2 linked regions of the Homo sapiens genome follow. The gene in region 1 interacts genetically with each later gene. Each region holds a gene or a part of one and is shown in the gene's direction. Other genes may lie near its edges.

Region 1 (5,601 bases):
GAATCTTTCTAACAAGACAGTACCAAAAACCTGTCATTGTCACATTTCTCTTTCATTAGTGCTTAGTGAGAATCATTTGCTCTCTACATGCTCATTACGTGGACAACTTGCAAGTTAAGAATAGTTTTTACATTTTTAAAGGGTCCTTAAAAAAAAAGAGGAGGAGGAAGATGAAGAAGAGGAAGAAAGGATGTAAAAGAAATCATATGTAGTCCACATAGCTTAATATACTTACTACTTGACCCTTTACAGGAAAAGTTTACTAACCCCTGCATTAGAGAATATATTTTTAGAAACTTTACATTCTAAAATAAATTTCTAAATGGAAAGTTAGGGAAATCAATGGAATGCCAAAGGAAGGTTATTATTTTTTGCCATACATGTCCAATGGGATGACGCATAGTAAAATAAAAGTTACCCACACAAGTTATAGAATAAAAAGATAAATGCATGATTTGCGACAATTGATATATTCCAGTATAATGTTTTAAACAACACAATATGATTGTTAATTTTATTTTGATTGAAAATGAAAGTATCTTTAATAGAAAATGTATCAAAAGGGAAATTAGAAAATACTGTTAGATGAATAAAACTGGCCCAAGAAGAAACAGTAAATCTGAATAGATTTGTAACACAGCGAATAGATTAAATTAGTAATAAAAAAAAAAACCTACCTGCAAAGAAAATCCCAGGCCGAGATGGCATCACTGGTAAATTCTACCAAACATTTAAAGAGGAATTAATACTAATTAGTTAACACCAATTAATATCTCTTACAAAACAGAAGAGGAGACATTTCCCAACTAATTTTGTGAGACCAATATTACCCTGATAATCAAAACCAAATGAAGATATCACAAGAAAAGAAACTATATAATGGCTCCATTAAAAATTGAGTTCAAGTATGTTGTAGTTTGGTTATGTATTATTCCTCACGGCATTATTAAAAGGCATGTCGAGGATGGGCACAGCAGTTCACACCTGTAATCCCGCACTTTGTGAGCCAAAGTGGCCAGGTTACTTGAGGCCAGGAGTTGGAGACCAGTCTGGCCAACATGGTGAAACCCCATCTCTACTAAAAATACAAAAATTAGCCGGGCATGGTGGTACACGCCTATGGTTCCAGCTACTTGGGAGGCTGAGGCATGAGAGTCACTTGAACCCAGGAGGCAGAGGTTGCAGTGAGCTGAGATGGCACCCCTGCACTCCAATCTTGGTAACAGAGCAAGACTGTCTCACACAGACACACGAAAGGCATATTGATAATAATTCAACTTATAGAAATTGAGATTAAATTGTTTGTTTGCCTAATAAGAATTTCCAATATTTTGGGGTCTTTTATGCAAGACACAGTACTAAACACAATGGAAAACTATAGAGTAATTGACATTACCAGGACATAAGGAGTTTACAGTCTGGTAGGTTTGATGAAAAAAAATAGAAATTCATTCATTCATTTCTTCATTATGATTCCTTTAACAAACATAATTGATTGTCTTCGATGTACCAGGCATCACAGGAGCAAAAATATATAAGACATACTAAAAAGTAAAACATTTTAAAGATCTGTTTCAATCAATCAGGAGAAGTTTTATTGAGGAGGTAATGTTGATCTGGGTGGGAAAAGGTAAGAGATATAGTAGGTCAAAACAAACAGAGGACATTCTGGCACAAGGGAATATCAGAAGCAAAGGCATGTATGTCTGAGCATGCAAATGGATATGTCTGAGAACAGTGAATAATTATGACTCAAGCTTAGGAACAAGGAAAATGGTGATAGATTGAATTTGCAGCTATGGGTCAAAGACAAGTTATAGAGTATTAGGATAATCTTGTCATTTCAGCTTGTATTCTATTCAGAAAACAACTTGAGTTATTGAAGTTATGCTTATTTGTTTGTTTTTAAGCAGAATCCTGATATTATTAGAGTTGCTCTTTAGGAGGAATAATCTGATCCCTTTAATTAAATCCATTAATATTTGTGTTGTGGATGCTATCCAGATACTGTATGGAGAGCTTGAGGTTTGAAATACAAGTAATAATTGAAGCCATAGATGAAGACGAAATTTTCAACTGGGAGAGTGAAAGTAGGGAAAATGTATCTTGCCTTCAAACATCTTAATTTCCTTCTGAGAATTAGAGCATCTTAGTCTGGAAAAGGCTTTATAGACAGCTTGATTTTGTTCTCACATTTTACAGGTGAAGAAACTGAGAACCAGACAGTCCAACTTATTTGTCCTACCAAACTAGGTATATGATCATTAAATGGTGCATCCGGATCAGAACCTAGATATTTTAACTCTGACTACTACTGTAATTCACTTTTATATCAGACAAGAAAGACACAACTATTAAAAATAAGATAATATTTGCTGCAGAATATTTGCAAAAACATTGATTGTAAATTTTAGTGTAAGTGGGGAGCCATTTCCTATCTCATTGGCTGTCAGTGCTGATGCGTAATTGAAACTTATACTAACAGTGTGTGCTGTCTTTTTGATTTTTCTAATATTAGGAAGGGTATCAAGACTACGAACCTGAAGCCTAAGAAATATCTTTGCTCCCAGTTTCTTGAGATCTGCTGACAGATGTTCCATCCTGTACAAGTGCTCAGTTCCAATGTGCCCAGTCATGACATTTCTCAAAGTTTTTACAGTGTATCTCGAAGTCTTCCATCAGCAGTGATTGAAGTATCTGTACCTGCCCCCACTCAGCATTTCGGTGCTTCCCTTTCACTGAAGTGAATACATGGTAGCAGGGTCTTTGTGTGCTGTGGATTTTGTGGCTTCAATCTACGATGTTAAAACAAATTAAAAACACCTAAGTGACTACCACTTATTTCTAAATCCTCACTATTTTTTTGTTGCTGTTGTTCAGAAGTTGTTAGTGATTTGCTATCATATATTATAAGATTTTTAGGTGTCTTTTAATGATACTGTCTAAGAATAATGACGTATTGTGAAATTTGTTAATATATATAATACTTAAAAATATGTGAGCATGAAACTATGCACCTATAAATACTAAATATGAAATTTTACCATTTTGCGATGTGTTTTATTCACTTGTGTTTGTATATAAATGGTGAGAATTAAAATAAAACGTTATCTCATTGCAAAAATATTTTATTTTTATCCCATCTCACTTTAATAATAAAAATCATGCTTATAAGCAACATGAATTAAGAACTGACACAAAGGACAAAAATATAAAGTTATTAATAGCCATTTGAAGAAGGAGGAATTTTAGAAGAGGTAGAGAAAATGGAACATTAACCCTACACTCGGAATTCCCTGAAGCAACACTGCCAGAAGTGTGTTTTGGTATGCACTGGTTCCTTAAGTGGCTGTGATTAATTATTGAAAGTGGGGTGTTGAAGACCCCAACTACTATTGTAGAGTGGTCTATTTCTCCCTTCAATCCTGTCAATGTTTGCTTTACGTATTTTGGGGAACTGTTGTTTGATGTGTATGTGTTTATAATTGTTATACATTTTTAATTGAGCCTTTTATTAACATATATTGTTATTTTTGTCTCGAAATAATTTTTTAGTTAAAATCTATTTTGTCTGATATTGGTGTGAATGCTGTACCTTTCTGACAATAAATAATATTCGACCATGAATAAAAAAAAAAAAAAAGTGGGTTCCCGGGAACTAAGCAGTGTAGAAGATGATTTTGACTACACCCTCCTTAGAGAGCCATAAGACACATTAGCACATATTAGCACATTCAAGGCTCTGAGAGAATGTGGTTAACTTTGTTTAACTCAGCATTCCTCACTTTTTTTTTTTAATCATCAGAAATTCTCTCTCTCTCTCTCTCTTTTTCTCTCGCTCTCTTTTTTTTTTTTTTTTTACAGGAAATGCCTTTAAACATCGTTGGAACTACCAGAGTCACCTTAAAGGAGATCAATTCTCTAGACTGATAAAAATTTCATGGCCTCCTTTAAATGTTGCCAAATATATGAATTCTAGGATTTTTCCTTAGGAAAGGTTTTTCTCTTTCAGGGAAGATCTATTAACTCCCCATGGGTGCTGAAAATAAACTTGATGGTGAAAAACTCTGTATAAATTAATTTAAAAATTATTTGGTTTCTCTTTTTAATTATTCTGGGGCATAGTCATTTCTAAAAGTCACTAGTAGAAAGTATAATTTCAAGACAGAATATTCTAGACATGCTAGCAGTTTATATGTATTCATGAGTAATGTGATATATATTGGGCGCTGGTGAGGAAGGAAGGAGGAATGAGTGACTATAAGGATGGTTACCATAGAAACTTCCTTTTTTACCTAATTGAAGAGAGACTACTACAGAGTGCTAAGCTGCATGTGTCATCTTACACTAGAGAGAAATGGTAAGTTTCTTGTTTTATTTAAGTTATGTTTAAGCAAGGAAAGGATTTGTTATTGAACAGTATATTTCAGGAAGGTTAGAAAGTGGCGGTTAGGATATATTTTAAATCTACCTAAAGCAGCATATTTTAAAAATTTAAAAGTATTGGTATTAAATTAAGAAATAGAGGACAGAACTAGACTGATAGCAGTGACCTAGAACAATTTGAGATTAGGAAAGTTGTGACCATGAATTTAAGGATTTATGTGGATACAAATTCTCCTTTAAAGTGTTTCTTCCCTTAATATTTATCTGACGGTAATTTTTGAGCAGTGAATTACTTTATATATCTTAATAGTTTATTTGGGACCAAACACTTAAACAAAAAGTTCTTTAAGTCATATAAGCCTTTTCAGGAAGCTTGTCTCATATTCACTCCCGAGACATTCACCTGCCAAGTGGCCTGAGGATCAATCCAGTCCTAGGTTTATTTTGCAGACTTACATTCTCCCAAGTTATTCAGCCTCATATGACTCCACGGTCGGCTTTACCAAAACAGTTCAGAGTGCACTTTGGCACACAATTGGGAACAGAACAATCTAATGTGTGGTTTGGTATTCCAAGTGGGGTCTTTTTCAGAATCTCTGCACTAGTGTGAGATGCAAACATGTTTCCTCATCTTTCTGGCTTATCCAGTATGTAGCTATTTGTGACATAATAAATATATACATATATGAAAATATGTATTTGGTTTCTGCCTCCAGTTCTTACAAAGAGCTCCTAAAACCCTTGTAATTTCCTGAGTAGTAGGGGTGCTAGGGTCATCTTTTGTTCTAATATTTGGTCTTTGACTCTGCTTTCTGACAGAGCTCCTTAGTCCCTGGGTGAGAGTAGCATCTTCTCTTCTAATGAAGTGACTCTTGCTGGGTTCCTGGATGGGGGCTGGTCACCAGAAAGGTCAAGCCATGATAAGAAGCTTGAAGCTTTTGGCCCCATTCACATCTTCTGGGGACGGGAGAGAAGAGGAGCTGGAGATTGAGTTAATAAGCAACAATGCTTCCATGATGAAGACTCCATAAAAATCCCTAAAAGACAGGATTCAGAGTGCTTTGAAATAGGTGAACATGCAGAGGTGCTGGGAATTGTGGTGTGTCCAGAGAAGGCATGCAAGCTCCCCACGCCTCCCCCATACCTTTCCCTGTGCATCTCTTCCATCTGGCTGTTCCTGAGTTGTATCCTTTTATAACAAACTGGTAATCTAGT
Region 2 (5,888 bases), on another chromosome or scaffold:
ATAAAATAAAATATATATATATATATACACACACACACACACACACACACACACACTCTTCATACATATTTGTGTTTATATATGCTTATATATATTAAATATCACAATAGGAAAGTTTCTTACCCTTTCATTTAGAATTGCTTTAATAGTTCATTAAGTTTTAATGTATTGCTCAATAATTTTGATTGAATATATTTTACGATACATGATATAATAATGATATATTTATGATATGATAAAATATTTATGATATTTTAGAGAAACAAGTGGTTTTATAATGTCACACCATATAACATATTATTTACATCATAAATATACAACCATGCAATATGTGCTGAAAATGGCACAAACCTAAGTGGAAAGTATGAAGATAAAAGTGTTGTAAGTTTTCTCCTTTATTTTCCACAGATCTGTAATTTATGATCTTTAAAACAAGCCAGAAAGGATTAGGAAAACAGGAGATTTTGCATGTCGGCAAGTTATCTTAAAACAAATGCCTATTCCTATATATTCATAAATATTTTAAATTAGTGAAAGTTCTCATGCCAGGTTTCTAATAATAAAAGTGAGACAGCACCGAACCAATTACTTGGAAAATTTGGCAGGAAAAATCAATTAACAAGATAATTGGTAAGAGTGAGTAATGGAGCACCTTCAACGCTAGGTGGGATTCAAGCAAAGAAACTGCGTTTGCCGGGGTTTTCCAGGAAATTTGGACAGAAACAGTTCTCTGTACATCCTCATACAAATCACTTCCTCCTCCCTTCAGTTCCCCCACAGCGACTGAAGCAGGGCTGTGTGCACTCCAGAAACTCATGGAGTCTATGTTTAACAAGTGAGGGAGGTGAATAATTCCAAAATAAGTTCCAAGATAAGGGACTTTTCCTCTTATGCTGAAAATAACCTGTTCTGTGAATGACAGGACATTGGAATCACACAGACCTTGGTGAGATCATTGTCTTCACCATTTAAAAGTGCTTCACCTTGGGGAAATTCTATAGCAGAGTGATGCTCTTATCTCAAAGTGCTTTGGGAAGCAAATGAGATAATATACATAGAACACCTAGCATTATTAATTACTTCCTTTCTATCCCTCTCATCTTAATTAAAATTTTGGATAGCATTAAGGAACATATTCCCTATTAAAAATAATATGCTGGCTGGGTGCGGTAGCTCACGCCTGTAATCCCAGCACTTTGGGAGGCCGAGGCGGGAGGATGACTTGAGGTCAGGAGTTTGAGACCAGCCTGGCCAACATGGCAAAACCCTGTCTCTACGAAAAATTCAAAAATTAGCTGGGCATGTTGGTGGGCGCCTGTAATCCCAGCTACTCGGGAGGCTGAGGCCAGAGAATCACTTGAACCTGGGAGGTGGGGGTTGCAGTGAGCCAAGATCTCGCCACTGCACTCCAGCCTGGACGACAAGAGCAAAACTCCATCTCAAAAAAAAAAATAGAAATAATAATAATTACAATATGCTATCCCAGTTCCTGTTTTATGAATTTGGCCAAGCCAAGTAAGTGGCACTATAGAAAGAGCAAAAATAAATCAAAATATATTTAAATTATTATACATTATATTAGGTTATATCATCAAATTTTATCAATATATTTAAATATAAATATATTTATATATATTTTAAATATAAATATATAAAAATATATTTATATATATTTTAAATATAAATATATAAAAATATATTTATATATATTTTAAATATAAATATATAAAATATATTTATATATATTTTAAATATAAATATATAAAATATATTTATATATATTTTAAATATAAATATATAAAATATATTTATATATATTTTAAATATAAATATATAAAATATATTTATATATATTTTAAATATAAATATATAAAATATATTTATATATATTTTAAATATAAATATATAAAAATATATATATTTTAAATATAAATATATAAAAATATATATATTTTAAATATAAATATATAAAAATATATATATTTTAAATATAAATATATAAAAATATATATATTTTAAATATAAATATATAAAAATATATATATTTTAAATATAAATATATAAAAATATATATATTTTAAATATAAATATATAAAAATATATATATTTTAAATATAAATATATAAAAATATATATATTTTAAATATAAATATATAAAAATATATATATTTTAAATATAAATATATAAAAATATATTTATATATTTTAAATATAAATATATTAATATTTGAATATATTTAAATGAGGAATTGACCCCTATCTATGAAACATGAAGTGTTTGTCTCTAAATCCCCTTTCAGGAGAATAAAGTCAGATTTACAAATAAAATTTGTTCCCGACAAAAGTGACATGCTTCAATTTCATTCATTTCTTAATGAATATCATCACTTTAGAGCTGCCCTATTGTGCTTTATGAAGTTTTTCCCCTCAGTTAAGTTTCTCTCTGCCCTTGTATTGCTTGTGATTATTCGCTCAGAAAGTGATGTCTAGGCTAGCGTGCTGGTTTGGGAATGCGTGTTTTCCAGGTACTTGCTGCGAACCCACCACACCTTTGTTTTCTGCCCCCAACAGGAGGCTGCATGCACATGAAGTGTCCGCAGCCCCAGTGCAGGCTCGAGTGGTGCTGGAACTGTGGCTGCGAGTGGAACCGCGTCTGCATGGGGGACCACTGGTTCGACGTGTAGCCAGGGCGGCCGGGCGCCCCATCGCCACATCCTGGGGGAGCATACCCAGTGTCTACCTTCATTTTCTAATTCTCTTTTCAAACACACACACACACGCGCGCGCGCGCACACACACTCTTCAAGTTTTTTTCAAAGTCCAACTACAGCCAAATTGCAGAAGAAACTCCTGGATCCCTTTCACTATGTCCATGAAAAACAGCAGAGTAAAATTACAGAAGAAGCTCCTGAATCCCTTTCAGTTTGTCCACACAAGACAGCAGAGCCATCTGCGACACCACCAACAGGCGTTCTCAGCCTCCGGATGACACAAATACCAGAGCACAGATTCAAGTGCAATCCATGTATCTGTATGGGTCATTCTCACCTGAATTCGAGACAGGCAGAATCAGTAGCTGGAGAGAGAGTTCTCACATTTAATATCCTGCCTTTTACCTTCAGTAAACACCATGAAGATGCCATTGACAAGGTGTTTCTCTGTAAAATGAACTGCAGTGGGTTCTCCAAACTAGATTCATGGCTTTAACAGTAATGTTCTTATTTAAATTTTCAGAAAGCATCTATTCCCAAAGAACCCCAGGCAATAGTCAAAAACATTTGTTTATCCTTAAGAATTCCATCTATATAAATCGCATTAATGAAATACCAACTATGCGTAAATCAACTTGTCACAAAGTGAGAAATTATGAAAGTTAATTTGAATGTTGAATGTTTGAATTACAGGGAAGAAATCAAGTTAATGTACTTTCATTCCCTTTCATGATTTGCAACTTTAGAAAGAAATTGTTTTTCTGAAAGTATCACCAAAAAATCTATAGTTTGATTCTGAGTATTCATTTTGCAACTTGGAGATTTTGCTAATACATTTGGCTCCACTGTAAATTTAATAGATAAAGTGCCTATAAAGGAAACACGTTTAGAAATGATTTCAAAATGATATTCAATCTTAACAAAAGTGAACATTATTAAATCAGAATCTTTAAAGAGGAGCCTTTCCAGAACTACCAAAATGAAGACACGCCCGACTCTCTCCATCAGAAGGGTTTATACCCCTTTGGCACACCCTCTCTGTCCAATCTGCAAGTCCCAGGGAGCTCTGCATACCAGGGGTTCCCCAGGAGAGACCTTCTCTTAGGACAGTAAACTCACTAGAATATTCCTTATGTTGACATGGATTGGATTTCAGTTCAATCAAACTTTCAGCTTTTTTTTCAGCCATTCACAACACAATCAAAAGATTAACAACACTGCATGCGGCAAACCGCATGCTCTTACCCACACTACGCAGAAGAGAAAGTACAACCACTATCTTTTGTTCTACCTGTATTGTCTGACTTCTCAGGAAGATCGTGAACATAACTGAGGGCATGAGTCTCACTAGCACATGGAGGCCCTTTTGGATTTAGAGACTGTAAATTATTAAATCGGCAACAGGGCTTCTCTTTTTAGATGTAGCACTGAAATCCTTGCTGGAGGGAAGAGAGGGGATGAACTCAAGTTTTCCACATCCTGGGACACCTGTCCCTCTTTTCCTAACTGCCTAAGATAACCCATTTCTTCCAACCATCTGAGGACAGTCCCGTCGTCTCAGAGGCCCTGCACCGGGGAGAGACTGGGCTCTGCAGCAGCCACATCAGCATTCACAGCTTCATGTGGCTTCACTGTCTGAAAATCTACCGACTCCAACATGGCCCCACGGTGACAACAGACCTGTGACAGGAAGCCCAAAGCTCACATAGAAATGGTGGACAGATCAAAGTCTCTATAGTAAGGGAAAAAAAGAGAGGTGGCAGGCATGAGCCCCCTGCACCCAGTGGCTCGTGTCCATACTGAGTCCAGACCCTGATCAAGGCCTGACTTAGTGTCACTGGCAGTCCCACTAAATTACACTTCCTTACACTGGCCCGATGCGACAAATCAGGTGGCTCCCTTCTGTCACGTGGAGCACACAGTGTTTTCCATCATCCATAGCTTTCTTCCTGATGGTGTTTGCATTATTGCGCCTTCCCAATCTGCATGCTGCGTTGGGCTTGCGGTGCCTGAACAAGGTTTGCTCCCATGAGCTCAGGCACCCTAGGATCCCCTGTTAGACTATTAGGCTGTCCAGCATGGTCTCCTTTCCCTTCTTGGTGGTGGTCTTTTCCCTTTCCAGAATAGAACAGTGATTCTTAAAATAAGTTAGAGCAGGCCGGGCGCGGTGGCTCATGCCTGTAATCCCAGCACTTTGGGAGGCCGAGGTGGGTGGATCACGAGGTCAGGAGTTCAAGACCAGCCTGGCCAAGATGATGAAACCCCGTCTCTATTAAAAATACAAAAATTAGCTGGGCGTGGTGGCAGGCACCTGTAATCCCAGCTTCCTGGGAGGCTGAGGCAGGAGAATCACTTGAACCCGGGGGGCAGAGGTTGCAGTGAGCCGAGATCACGCCACTGAACTCCAGCCTGGGCAACAGAGTGAGACTCTGTCTCAAAAAAAAAAAAAAAACAAAAACAAAAAAGCAAGATCATCCACTACACATGAACATGAATCACAGTATTATTTGCACAGGAAGGGTGTAACAAAATATGAATGTATCAAAAAATAGAAATAAAGTCTTTGCAGAAAAAGTCTGTTTTTCTCTGAAGTGTGTTGAGATTATCTGACAACTCTAAGATTGTACTTAAATTGTCAATAAAGCATCAAAAGAGCTTCTGAGTCTGTCTTTGAAGATACATTTTCAATCAATGTGAAGGGTGACGGAGGGAATCACAGGCTGTATTACTCCATGGGCCTCACTTGTGGCCTGGAGGAATTACCTGGTGATGAAATAGCCATTCAGTGACCTGGAGGAATTACCTGGTGATGAAATAGCCATTCTCATATCAACTCCAAGCTCCAGATTACCGCTGGCTGTTTCTCTTTGTTAAATAAGAGTAGTTTTTTAAGGCTATCAAAATTTGAAAGGGTTCCAAAAAGCAAACCCTCATTCATAAAAATCTAAAAGTTACTTTCCTGCCTTACTAGCAAACTTTTCTAATAAAAGTGTTTAAAAGAGAAGTTTGCATTGGAAAAGACTATCTATAAGGATTTTTTCTCATGTCATTCTAGAAAATTTCAGTGACTTTGCATTGCTGTCAATGTGGGTGTGTTGACGCTGCATTTTCAAAGAACTGCTTTAGTGGCCATGCATTGTTTATTTCACAATGAGCCCATGGTGGAGGGATCTGGAA

The links. Genes that interact genetically often act in the same process or in processes that back each other up.
Region 2: of SNCA (region 1) and PRKN, changing one suppresses a phenotype caused by changing the other (phenotypic suppression), as found in Homo sapiens cells (2 studies listed by BioGRID).

Annotation. Positions count from the first base shown.
Region 1 is NC_000004.12:89,723,578-89,729,178, reverse strand, and holds the end of SNCA (alpha-synuclein), read left to right. Parts: intron 1-2,518; coding exon 2,519-2,551; 3' UTR 2,552-5,080; downstream 5,081-5,601. UniProt on the Homo sapiens protein: Neuronal protein that plays several roles in synaptic activity such as regulation of synaptic vesicle trafficking and subsequent neurotransmitter release.
Region 2 is NC_000006.12:161,346,895-161,352,782, reverse strand, and holds the end of PRKN (E3 ubiquitin-protein ligase parkin), read left to right. Parts: intron 1-2,571; coding exon 2,572-2,684; 3' UTR 2,685-5,366; downstream 5,367-5,888. UniProt on the Homo sapiens protein: Functions within a multiprotein E3 ubiquitin ligase complex, catalyzing the covalent attachment of ubiquitin moieties onto substrate proteins. Substrates include SYT11 and VDAC1.